Regions from separate parts of the Homo sapiens genome. Here region 1 is linked to region 2. The links come from fine-mapping of genetic effects on gene expression. A gene starts in region 2. The other region holds a variant in brackets. All regions are shown on one strand. Distances are between the middles of the regions.

Evidence for each region. PIP is the estimated chance that this variant, and not a neighbour inherited with it, causes the effect.
Region 1: its variant is the best candidate, but not a certain one, in a credible set for the expression of TCIRG1 in T cells (TOPMed, PIP 0.58).

The regions. Positions count from the first base shown.
Region 1 is chr11:67,985,263-67,990,628 of GRCh38, forward strand. No RefSeq gene overlaps it. Among named protein-coding and RNA genes, the nearest start is that of UNC93B1, 16 kb to the right of the region's middle. The variant A/G (reference allele first, on the strand shown) is at 2,882.
Region 2 is chr11:68,035,810-68,041,175 of GRCh38, forward strand. TCIRG1 (T cell immune regulator 1, ATPase H+ transporting V0 subunit a3) reads left to right here and starts at 3,216. Exons shown (of 20, transcript NM_006019.4): 1 at 3,216-3,310. It overlaps NDUFS8 (NADH:ubiquinone oxidoreductase core subunit S8), which reads left to right. Exons shown (of 7, transcript NM_002496.4): 6 at 444-572; 7 at 653-835. The coding sequence ends at 784. RefSeq lists an enhancer at 2,575-3,196 and silencers at 3,088-3,267, 3,328-3,407, 5,088-5,217.

The DNA.
Region 1 (5,366 bases), 51 kb before region 2:
ATGTTACTTCAATCATAAGTGATGTTGGTAATAAAACAATAATTAATATTAAGATTAATAACTAATATTAAAAGTGACATTAATATTAATAATTAATTTTAATCATGCATAATCATATCTCAAAAATAATCATTAATGATTAATAACGTTATACTGTTAATTAATATTACCATTGATAATTATTAATAAGACTGATGTTTAATAATTCAGAATATTATTACTGCTAATACCGCAGGGGGTGTACATCTACTTGTGATAATGTTCCTAATATCCAGGGATGGAGAGCATGATATTAGTTTTCATATCACAGTAGGTGTACACTCACCCTGTGACACCGATCCTAATACCCAGCTTGTAGAGTATGACATGACTGCCAACATAGCAATCAATGTACAGCCACCCGGTGATATTGCTCCTAATATTCACGGAAGAAGCGTATGATATTACTCCCAATATCGCAGGGAGTGTACACCTCTTCTGTGATATTGTTCCTAGTATCCCGAGGGGGAGAGGGTGATAATAATTCCAGCAACGCAGGCTGTGTTCACCCAGCCTGTGAAATTGTTATTAATATCCTGAAAGGGAGAGGATGATATTACTCCCCATAATAGAGCAGGAGGTGTACACCCACCCTGTGATATTCTTCCTAATATTCAGAGGCCGAGAGGTTGATATTACTCCCAATATCGCAGGAAGTATACACCCCTGTGTGAGATGGTCCTTCATAATATTCCAAGGCGGAGGGGGTGATATGACTACATATATGGCAGAAAGTGAACACCCCCCAGGGATATTGTTCCCATGATCCTGGAGGGAAGAGGATGATATTACTTTCAATATCACAGAAGGTGGACACGCCCCCACTGATATTGTTTCTAATTGCAACGTGGGACAGGAGGATATGACACGCGATATCCGAGGGAGTGGAAACACCCCTGTGATACTCTTCTTAATATTCATGGAGGAAGAGGATGATATTACTCCCAATACAGAAAGGTGTACACCCTCTGTACACTGAGGGTATACACCCATCTGTGAAACAGTTCATAATCTCCAGAGGGGGAGATGGTGTTGCTCAAAATAAGGTAAACAGGCTGTGAGTCCACCGCGGATCCTAAAACCCAGGGGGGGAAGAGGGGCTAGCTCTTACTCCCCGCATCGCAGGGGGTGCCTCACCCCCCTGTGATGGGGGTCCTAAGAGCCAGGGGGGGAGAGGGGCTGTTCCCTACGTTGGGGCACTGAGGTCCCTGTTTTCTTGTAAGCTGCCATTGGGGACCACTCTCGGCTTCCAGGGGCCCCCTTGTAGGTGGCACCATGGCCACTTGCCCTACTCCAAGCCTGCAGAAGAGCGCCTCTCTGCCATGTCCCTTTCTTTTAAAAGACTTGCCTGACTGGTTCAGGTCCATTAGGTAGCGTCCCATTTGATTAGCTCAAAAGTACTGTAGCCCATCACATTCACTCACAGGAGGGCATTAGCGGGGTGTGGACACCAGGGAGTGAGAATCTCTCAGGCCAGTTTAGCATTCAGTTGGTTAGCCAGGTTCAGTGGCTCACGCCTGTAATCCCAGCACTTTGGGAGGCCAAGGCGGGCAGATCACCTGAGGCCAGGAGTTCGAGACCAGCCTGGCCAACATGGTGAAACCCAGTCTCTACTAAAAATACAAAAATTAGCCAGGCGTGGTGGTAGGCGCCTGTAATCTCAGCTACTTGGAAGCCTGAGGCAGGAGAATCGCTTGAACCTGGGAGGTGGAGGTTGCAGTGAGCCGAGATTGTGCCTTTGCACTCCAGCCTAGGCGATACAGCGAGTCTCAAAAATAAATAAATGCGAAGGCTGCTGAGCACAGTGGCTCATGCTTTATAATCCTGGCACTTTGGGAGGCCGAGGCAGGAAGACTGCTTGAGGCCAGGAGTTTCAGCCTAGCATGGACAACACAGTGCCACTCTATCTCTAAGTAAAATAAAATAAAATAAAATAAAATAAAATAAAATAAAATAAAATAAAATAAAATAAAATAGTAAAATAAGAATTCAGTTGGTTAAAAGAAACTCACTAGGTCCAGCCCACAATCAAGGGATGGAAATTACACAAAGTTGTGAAGAGTCAAGGGTGGGAGATCGCTGGCAGCCCTTATAGATGCTGCCTATCTCACATACCTGTTGGACAGCTTCTCTCTCCTAGCTGGGGGTATTTGGAGCGGGTGTCGAATCCTGCTCTTTTTTATGTCTGTTGCCTTTTCTCGCGGTGATGTGTTTCCTGTGTGTTCTGTAATTTTGGATCGTGAGCTGAGCTTCAGAGGGGCTTTAGTGGTCCCAGGGTACCACTAAGCCAAGGCAACTTTTATTTTTGAGACAGAGTTTCCCTCTTGTTGCCCAGGCTGGAGTGCAGTGGCGCAGTCTCAGCTCACTGCAACCTCTGCCTCCCAGGTTCAAGCTATTCTCCTGCCTCAGCCTCCAGAGTAGCTGGGATTACAGGCACACGAGGCTTGGCTAATTTTTTGTATTTTTAGTGGAGACGGGGTTTCACCATGTTGGCCAGGCTGGTCTCGAACTCCTGACCTCAGGTGATTCACCTGCCTCAGCCTCCTGAAGTGCTGGGATTACAGGCGTGAGCCACCACTCCCGGCCCAAAGCAACTTTTTAGTGTTAATTTCTCAACTCTGGCATTCCTAGACCACACAGGTGGCATGACTTTATTGTAGGAGTTCCACATTTACATAAGAGAGGCCTGAAAACGCAACGATCTCATGGGAAACTTGTTCACCACCTAAAGCTCAAAATTTCTCACCTCTCTCTGTTCCCCTGGGTGGAAATGTTTCTGTCCCTTTCTCTAAAGGTGTTGCATTTCTGTGGCCCCAACTTCATCATGCTTGACTGTAACCCT[A/G]ACCCCCTGCCTTGTAAGGGATACCAACGCTCAACCCAGCCCTGCCCTCAGGCAGTTGCAGCACCAGCTCCTCTGTCCCCACCTTGGTTCTCACTCTCCTCTTCACTTCTGGCCTTAGGGGACTTAACTTATTTTCTGAAGAACTCAGCTATATATTTATTTTATTTTATTTATATATTTTTTGAGATGGAGTTTCACTCTTTTGCCCAGGCTAGAGTGTAATGGCGTGATCTTGGCTCACTGCAACTTCTGCCTTCCGGGTTTAAGCGATTCTCCTGCTTCAGCCTCCTAAGTAGCTGAGATTACAAGCGCCTGCCACCACTCCTGGCTGATTTTTGTATTTTTAGTAGAGATGGGGTTTCACCATTGGCCAGGCTGGTCTTGAACTCCTGGCCTCAGGTGATCCGCCTGCCTCAGCCTCCCAAAGTGCTGGAATTACAGGCGTGAGCCACCACGCCCGGCCTCAGCTCTATAGTTAAAAGGACATTTGTTTCTTACCCAGCATTTCTAGGTGTTTTGAAGAGGGAGACTTCTCAGGTTATCTAACCTGCTACTGAGAACTTAAAGATAGGGAAAATCTTGGACTGGAGATTCTTGGAATCACATAATTGAAAAATCCCAGCTGGGCGTGATGGCTCACGTCTATAATCCCAGCACTTTGGGATGCCGAGGCAGGTGGATCACCTGAGGTCAGGAGTTTGAGACCAGGTTGGCCAACATGGTGAAACTTCGTCTCTACTAAAAATACAAAAAAAAAATTGCCTGGCTTGGTGGTGGGCGCCTGTAATCCCCGCTACTCGGGAAGCTGAGGTAGGAGAATCGCTGGAACCCAGGAGATGGAGGTTGCAGTGAGCTGAGATCATGCCATTGCACTCCAGCCTGGGCAACAAGAGTGAAACTCCGTTGCAAAAAAAAAAAAAAAAAGAAAAGAAAAGAAAAGAGAAAGAAAAAGAAAAATCCCCACAGTGCAGATCGACAAAATCACAGAGTTGCTTTGGGAGCGAGGGTGGCAATCAGACACGGAGGCCATGACACAACCTGCTTATCCACTCAGGGGTCCAGAACCTCCACCCAGTCACCTTATCCGGGGGTGATGGAGACAGGGGAGGTGCCACCTACGCCAGTGTCATCTCTTACAATGAGCTCTTCTCCTGCTCGAAAAGAGCCAGCCTGCTGAGCTTGCTGCCAGGGCCCGTCGCACTGCCTGCGCTGTGTTGCCCGTCGCACAGCCTGTGATATGTGTTTCCCATCATGTGTGCATGTGTGTTGTCATGTAGTGTCTGTCACAGGTGTTACCCGTCACGTGTGTTTGCATGTTGCATGTGTGTGGCCTATCAGGTGTAAATATGTGTTGTCTGGCACATGTCAGCATCTGGGCATTCTCCGTGTGCCAGGAGCAGCCAGGTGGCCTGTGAAGCCTTCTCATGGGAAATGCCCAGATAGGAAGAGCACAGCCAGGAGCCAAGCCCCTGAGTGGCCACTCCATGTGCCTGGATCACCTTCAAGTCTGCTCAACATCACAGCCTCTGTTCCTTGGCACCATGGACATTGGAATTGACTCGGAACTGGGAAGAGCTGTAGGCCCACTATCCAGGCACCTGCTCCCCGTTTGCCCAGCATCCCAGGGGCCCACACCCTTCCAAATATCACCTTGCCCTCCATTCAGAGGTGAATCATCTGAGCGTCAGGTTGCCCAACTCCGACTGGTTTTGCTGGAGCCTGCCTAGAGGATGTCGCCAGCCACCTCCAGAGAACACTCAGTCTACAGATGCCGAGGGGGAACTGGAAGCACACAGTGCTGGCCTTCACCCAGGTTATGGTGGCACCTCGGGACCGCTTCTGAGTCTGCTTGTCACTGAAGGTCGGCGTGAGGCAGGCAGCGTTCCCTCCCAGATTTAGAAAATGTCAAGTCTCCCGCCGCACCCTTTTGTGTTTCTTACAGGGCCTGGTGCGCTTGCTGCCGCCACACTAAGGGCTCCAACATGTTCCCTCACACACTCAACAGAGAAGGAACCTGTGGCTCAGATGGCAGACTCCCTGTCCAAGGCCACAGAGTCTGGCCCCAGGGACCACTAGAGGCTTCAAGAACCAAACTCACATGAGGGCAGAGAGGAGAGATGGGGCCAGTTTAGGGCTGGGAGAATCCATAGAGCGATGCTGAGGCAGGCATGGAGCCTGGAGGTACGGACGAGGGTCTCGCCAAAGTCAGGGGTAAAGAGGCTGTGGGGAGTGAGGAATGGTGTGGGCCAGCCCCGGGCCTGCTGGGGTGCAGCTGGGGGCTCCATGGCCCTCCCACGGCCCCCACTTGTCCTCACCCAACCGTTCAGAGCTCTTCATGGCGGGGGTGTCCTCTCCTCTGGCCACAAGAGGAGCGGGTGGAGGAACGGCACCTTCAGGCCTTGTAGGGGGTCTGCCCCTCCACCAGCCTGTTTCTCGTGGGCATCGCAGCTGAGGCTGTAGCCGGGAAAGGGTAGTCACCGAGCGT
Region 2 (5,366 bases):
GAGATCGAGACCATCCTGGTCTACATGGTGAAACCCCATCTCTACTAAAAAATACAAAAATTAGCTGGGCGTGGTGATGCACACTTGTAGTCCCAGCTACTCAGGGGGCTGAGGCAGGAGAATCACTTGAACCGGGAAGGCCGAGGTTGCAGTGAGCCGAGATTGTGCTGCTGCACTCCAGCCTGGCGACAGAGCGAGACTCTATCTCAAAAAAAAAAAAAAAAAAAAAAAAACCAGCAAGGCAGGGACGCCAGCAGGGCACGTGCTGAGGAGACAGGCGCGAGCACCAGAGGTGCAGGGCGGCCTCTTAGCCGGAGTCCAGGAGGCCTTTGAGGGGAGAGGGCTTCTGGCAGACCCCAGGGGTGGGGATGAGCAGTGACAGGGGCCCTGGGGGCTGGGATGTGACAGGGCAGCGTGGCAGTGTCTGGTGGCCCCTCCCGCAGGCCATCACCATCGAGGCTGAGCCAAGAGCTGATGGCAGCCGCCGGACCACCCGCTATGACATCGACATGACCAAGTGCATCTACTGCGGCTTCTGCCAGGAGGCCTGTCCCGTGGATGCCATCGTCGAGGCACGTGAGGCCCCCGGGTGGGAGGGGGCCTGAGGCTCCTCAGCAGGGCCTAACCACCGTCCCTGCACCTCAACCTGCAGGGCCCCAACTTTGAGTTCTCCACGGAGACCCATGAGGAGCTGCTGTACAACAAGGAGAAGTTGCTCAACAACGGGGACAAGTGGGAGGCCGAGATCGCCGCCAACATCCAGGCTGACTACTTGTATCGGTGACGCCCCACCGGCCCGCAGCCCCTGCTGCCCAATAAAACCACTCCGACCCCACGGCCTCTTGTCTTGACTCTGGTGGTCCAGGGTGGGGCCGTTCCCGGCCTGCCTGAGGCCTGTGGTGCCTCCAACTGGACTAGGTCGCCACCTAGTCTTTATGCTCTCTGGAGTCCTGCTGCCCCAGCCCTGCCTTCCTGTAGACTCCAGGGCCCCACCAGGCTCTCATGGCTAGACCACAGGCCGCAGCATCCCTGTCACCCTGCCTCTTCCTGGGCGTCTTCCCCAAGGCCCAGCGATGCCAGAGGTCACCACAGACCTGCCGTTCCCACTCTCCCGGGTGTCCTGGCTGGGGCCTGGGCCTCCTGTCTCCCAAGAGCCATCCACTTGTAAGACGCTTAGGACTTGGAGCCTCCCAAGACCTCAGGCTGAAGAACAGCAAGTGGCAGAAACTCAGGCCGGGGCATCCTTGCTGGGGGTAGGAGGAAGCCTGCTTGGGGTGACAGTCACACGAGGGTGACACAGGCCCTGCTGGCCCTGAGCTGGCCTGCGTCCAGCCACATCCTCTTTCCTGTGTTCCCTACGCCAGGGTGCTGGCCCGGCCACTGCTCACCACTTCCTGCTTTGCTGGCCCAGCGACACGGTGGGGTTTCCCTAGGGCCACACACAAGCCCCTTGCCCATATAATGGCCAAAAGCAGCCCCCCTGAACTTGTGCTAAGTACTGTGGAAGGATTTCACTTCATTTGCAGTGAGGAAACCAGCTCCGAGAGGTGAAAGGGCTTGCTCAGGGCCATGCAGGGCACATCCCATAATAAAACTCAGTTCAGAGACCTTGACCCCCCCCATCTACCATCATTTCCAAAAGTGCTTTTTACAAAGCACTACTTTGTAAAAAGCTACTTCTTCGAAAGAACAAGTTTCCTGGCCCAGTGAGTGTTGGAAATGCTCCAGCTGCTGTGTGCCTGCTGGCAGGTACTGCATGGTAGACATTCAAGGCTCTGAGAAGGCCTGCAGCAAAAACACCAGCCTCTCCCAGCCCATTCCCAGGGAGCTTTTCTCAGGTCTAACACCTGGGCCTCCTTCCTAGACCAGGCATTGCCATCTAATGCCAAAGTGGCCAGGCTCCCGCTTGGGCCCCACAGCCTGTGGCACTGGGGTGAGAAGTAACTGCAGGAGGCGAGGGGAAGCCTGGAGCCCGGGAAGTGTCCACAGGTCTGGCCCGCAGCTCATCTTGGCCACTGATGAAAACAGGTGTTCTTTCCAAAAACAAGGCAGGCGCAGGACTCCTGAAGCACCGCCGGTTTAGCTTTTCCCAGACGTAACCGCCGTCAGAGCGTGGCATGGAGCCTGTAGCTGTGCACTGAATACTTCTATTCCAAGCGGGTCAGTCTTTCCAGCTCACCGCTGGGTTCTTTCCCTTACCGTGGTCTCCCAGGCACTTACTGCTGAGACCCCACTCAGGCTGTCTGGTTGTATCAGGCCCCGACCCTGTCAGAACAGGCCTATGGCGCCCAACCACAAGTCCCCCAATTTTCTGAGGAACCACAGCTGAGCTTGGCTGTGACTCAGTTTCCAGGCCCGGCTCTGGGGCTCCACTTGTCCACCCCTGCCGCAGCCCCACAGGCCTGTGCTCGCTGTGTGGGGCTTAGGGATCACCAGAGCTGAAGGGCCCCTGGCCTCCAGTGGGAATGCCCCAGGCCTGTCCAAAGTGCAGGCAGCTGGACGGTCGTGAGTCCCAGCTTCCAGGCACTAGGACCTGATGACGCCCATGGTGCTGACCTGGAGCAAGGTCACAGTGACACCCCCCTCTACCCCCCGCGGCTGCAGCTGCAGGTGGAGCTGACAGCTGGCCTCTGGCCCCAGGGTATCTCCCAGGGCCTGCTGGGTGCGGGGCGCTGGGCAGAACAAGGCAGCATGGCCTGGCCCTGTGTCCTGCTGCCAGTGAAGCAGGCCCAGAGTGGGGCAGCCACCCACCCAAGGGCCAGAGCGGGGCCTCTCCAGGGTGGTCAAGAGCAGGAAGGTGTAAGCACCGGCGGGTTTCACTGCCGCCCAAGGGAGGGGTCCCGGAGGTGGGGGAGCATCCTGGGGACCCCAAGCCCATGAGCCTGCGAATGTTGGGGTCCCATCAGCCAGAGGCGCACAAGCCTCGAAGTGAGAGGAGAGCAGGGTCTCATCTCCTATCCTGAGCTGGGCCTGAGCGGAGCTGCCCCTGCATCGGGGCCAGCATAGACGCGCGCGGTTGGCAGTGGTCTGTTATCCGCTCCTTTCTCCAGGCCTCCTCTCCGGGATTAAGCGCCTCAGGACCCGTCCGCCAGGCCACAGCCTGGGCTCAACCTCTCCCAGACTTCCTGGACTCCAGTGGAGCCTTGGGCCGGGGGCGGGGCGTCCCTGGCCCCTCCCCGTCGTCCCGCCTGCCCGGAAAGGAGTGAGCGGCGCCTAGTCCCGGGCTGGCGGGAGTGCAGTTCTGAGTCCCGCCCGGCGTGCGCGGAGCGGGGCAGCCAGCAGCGGAGGCGCGGCGCGCAGCACACCCGGGGTGAGTGCCCCTGCCGGGGTCTGCGGAGCCCCAGAATTTCCTGCCCACCCTCTTCCCCCTGCCCCGGGGAGGAGATCCTGGCGCCCCACCCAGTTGGCTCCGTGAATGCAGCTCAGCCCGCCACCCCGCAGGGTGTCAGGCCTTGCGGGGGGCCACGGAGGATCCCCAAGGGAGGAGGAGAAGGATGGGGTGTTTACCAACACAGCCCAGCGTTCCCGGGCCTGGTGTGCGCGGAGCTTTCCCCGCTGCTGCTTCCTTGGAGGGAGGGACCCATTCTACAGATGGGGAAGCTGAGACCACACAACTAGGAAGTGTCAGAGCTGGAGACCAGCTGGGTCATTTGACTCCAGAGCCCACCCCATTTGGAATGGAGGGGGCGCCAGACCCTCTCCTACTGCCTTCCCATCATCTGGAGGGGAGGGCAGAGGTGCAGAGAGACCTGCTGGGTTCCTGGAGGGGCCAGGAAAGGGGCACAGGGTGAGGAGTGGGCTGGAGCCTGGACCCCAGGGCCGCAGGATGGAGGCGTATTCATTTACACCATAAAAGTGGCTGGGTGACCCTGGCTAGAGCGGGGACCAAGGGGGACAGGGGTAGGGGGTGAGCCAGTGGAGCCTCACATGCCAGGCACGGGGGCTGATCACGTCCCCACACCTTTCCCCCCGCCCATTACAGGTTGTTCCCCCACCCCCTGGGAAGTGCTGGAAGGAGCCCGGCCCTCGAGCCCTCGGCATAGTGGCTGTGGGAGCCCTGATGGCCCTGAGCCAGGGGTGACCCCTCCCCAGATCCCCAGAGCTGATTCCCCACACCTCCTTATTTGGCCAGCACAGCCCCAAAGGGAGCCAGGTCAGACACAACCCTCCTCTGAGCTCACCCTTTGTGCTGGGCACATAACATTGGACTTTACCTCTCCAAGTGTCAGTGGAGTCCTGTATGAAACAAAAGCACCGTACCCCCTCCCCAAGGGTTTCTCCCCCCAGGGATTAGTGTGAGGTCGTGTGGATGAAGGGATTCAGTTGAGGCTCTGGTTATTTTTGTCACCTCCCTAGATCCTGTCTCTGTCAGGGGTGCCACGTCCCATTCACCCAAAGAGGAAGTAGAGGCACAGAGAGGGTGAGAGACTTGCCCAAGGTCACACACCCAATCTCAGCCTGGGCTCCAAGTCCCTCTGCCCTGTGGCCGGGCCTGGTCCTTAGGGATGGAACCCAGCCCCGCTGCCCCCTGCCCTGCCCACCTGCAGCCTTGGGCCATCTGCTCAGTGTTCCCTCGTTCCCTCCTTCTCTCCTTTCCCAGGCTGGGGCTGGGGCTGCGTTTCCCTGTTTAGAGTTAAGTAAACCAGACCCAGGGGAGGAAGTGACTGGCTGGGCAGGCGGGGCCCTGACCAGGCCTGTCCCCTCCCCCTAATTTTCGAGCTAAGCAACTGATTCCCACAGAGGGGCCCTGGGCCCTGAGAGCAGTGGCTTTGGAGCTGGAGGGGCCCCAGCATCCAGGGCGGGTTGGAGGTGGCCTGGCACCTGCCCCCACCCCACATCGGCCTTGAGCAAGGCCCCGGGCCCTTCCCCGCCATTCTGTAGTTTCACTTTTGTTGGTTTCAACACCTGGAAGGCTGCGGCTGCTGCCGGGCGGCCCGGGCCTCAGGGGACAGCCCCCCCACAGCAGTGCTCCCTGGCTAGCCCCAGGGTACCCGGTGGAGATGCCCGCTCCTACCACTCAGCACATGCAGCTCCACAGGGAGCAGCGAGGGCTCCAGCCACCCCCGGGGCAGCCCTGGGCCTAAGTGCCTGGGCCAGTGGGGTCCTGTCTAGGGTGACGGCAGCCCGAGAGGAGGGAGGCCAGAGTGAAGGTGGGGGTGGAGCCGGTGTCACTGGGAGACGCTGGAGGTAGGGGCGGGGGTCCCCATGGGCAGAGCAAGCCAGGAGAGAGCTTGAGGTCGGCCTGAGGGTGGGCTTCGGGGTCTCCCAGTCCCACTGCTTACTTTCTGCGTGACCTCAGCACCGCATCAAGCCTGCCCAGGCCTCAGTTTCCACCTCTGTCAGATGGGGGTGGTAACAGCAGCTTC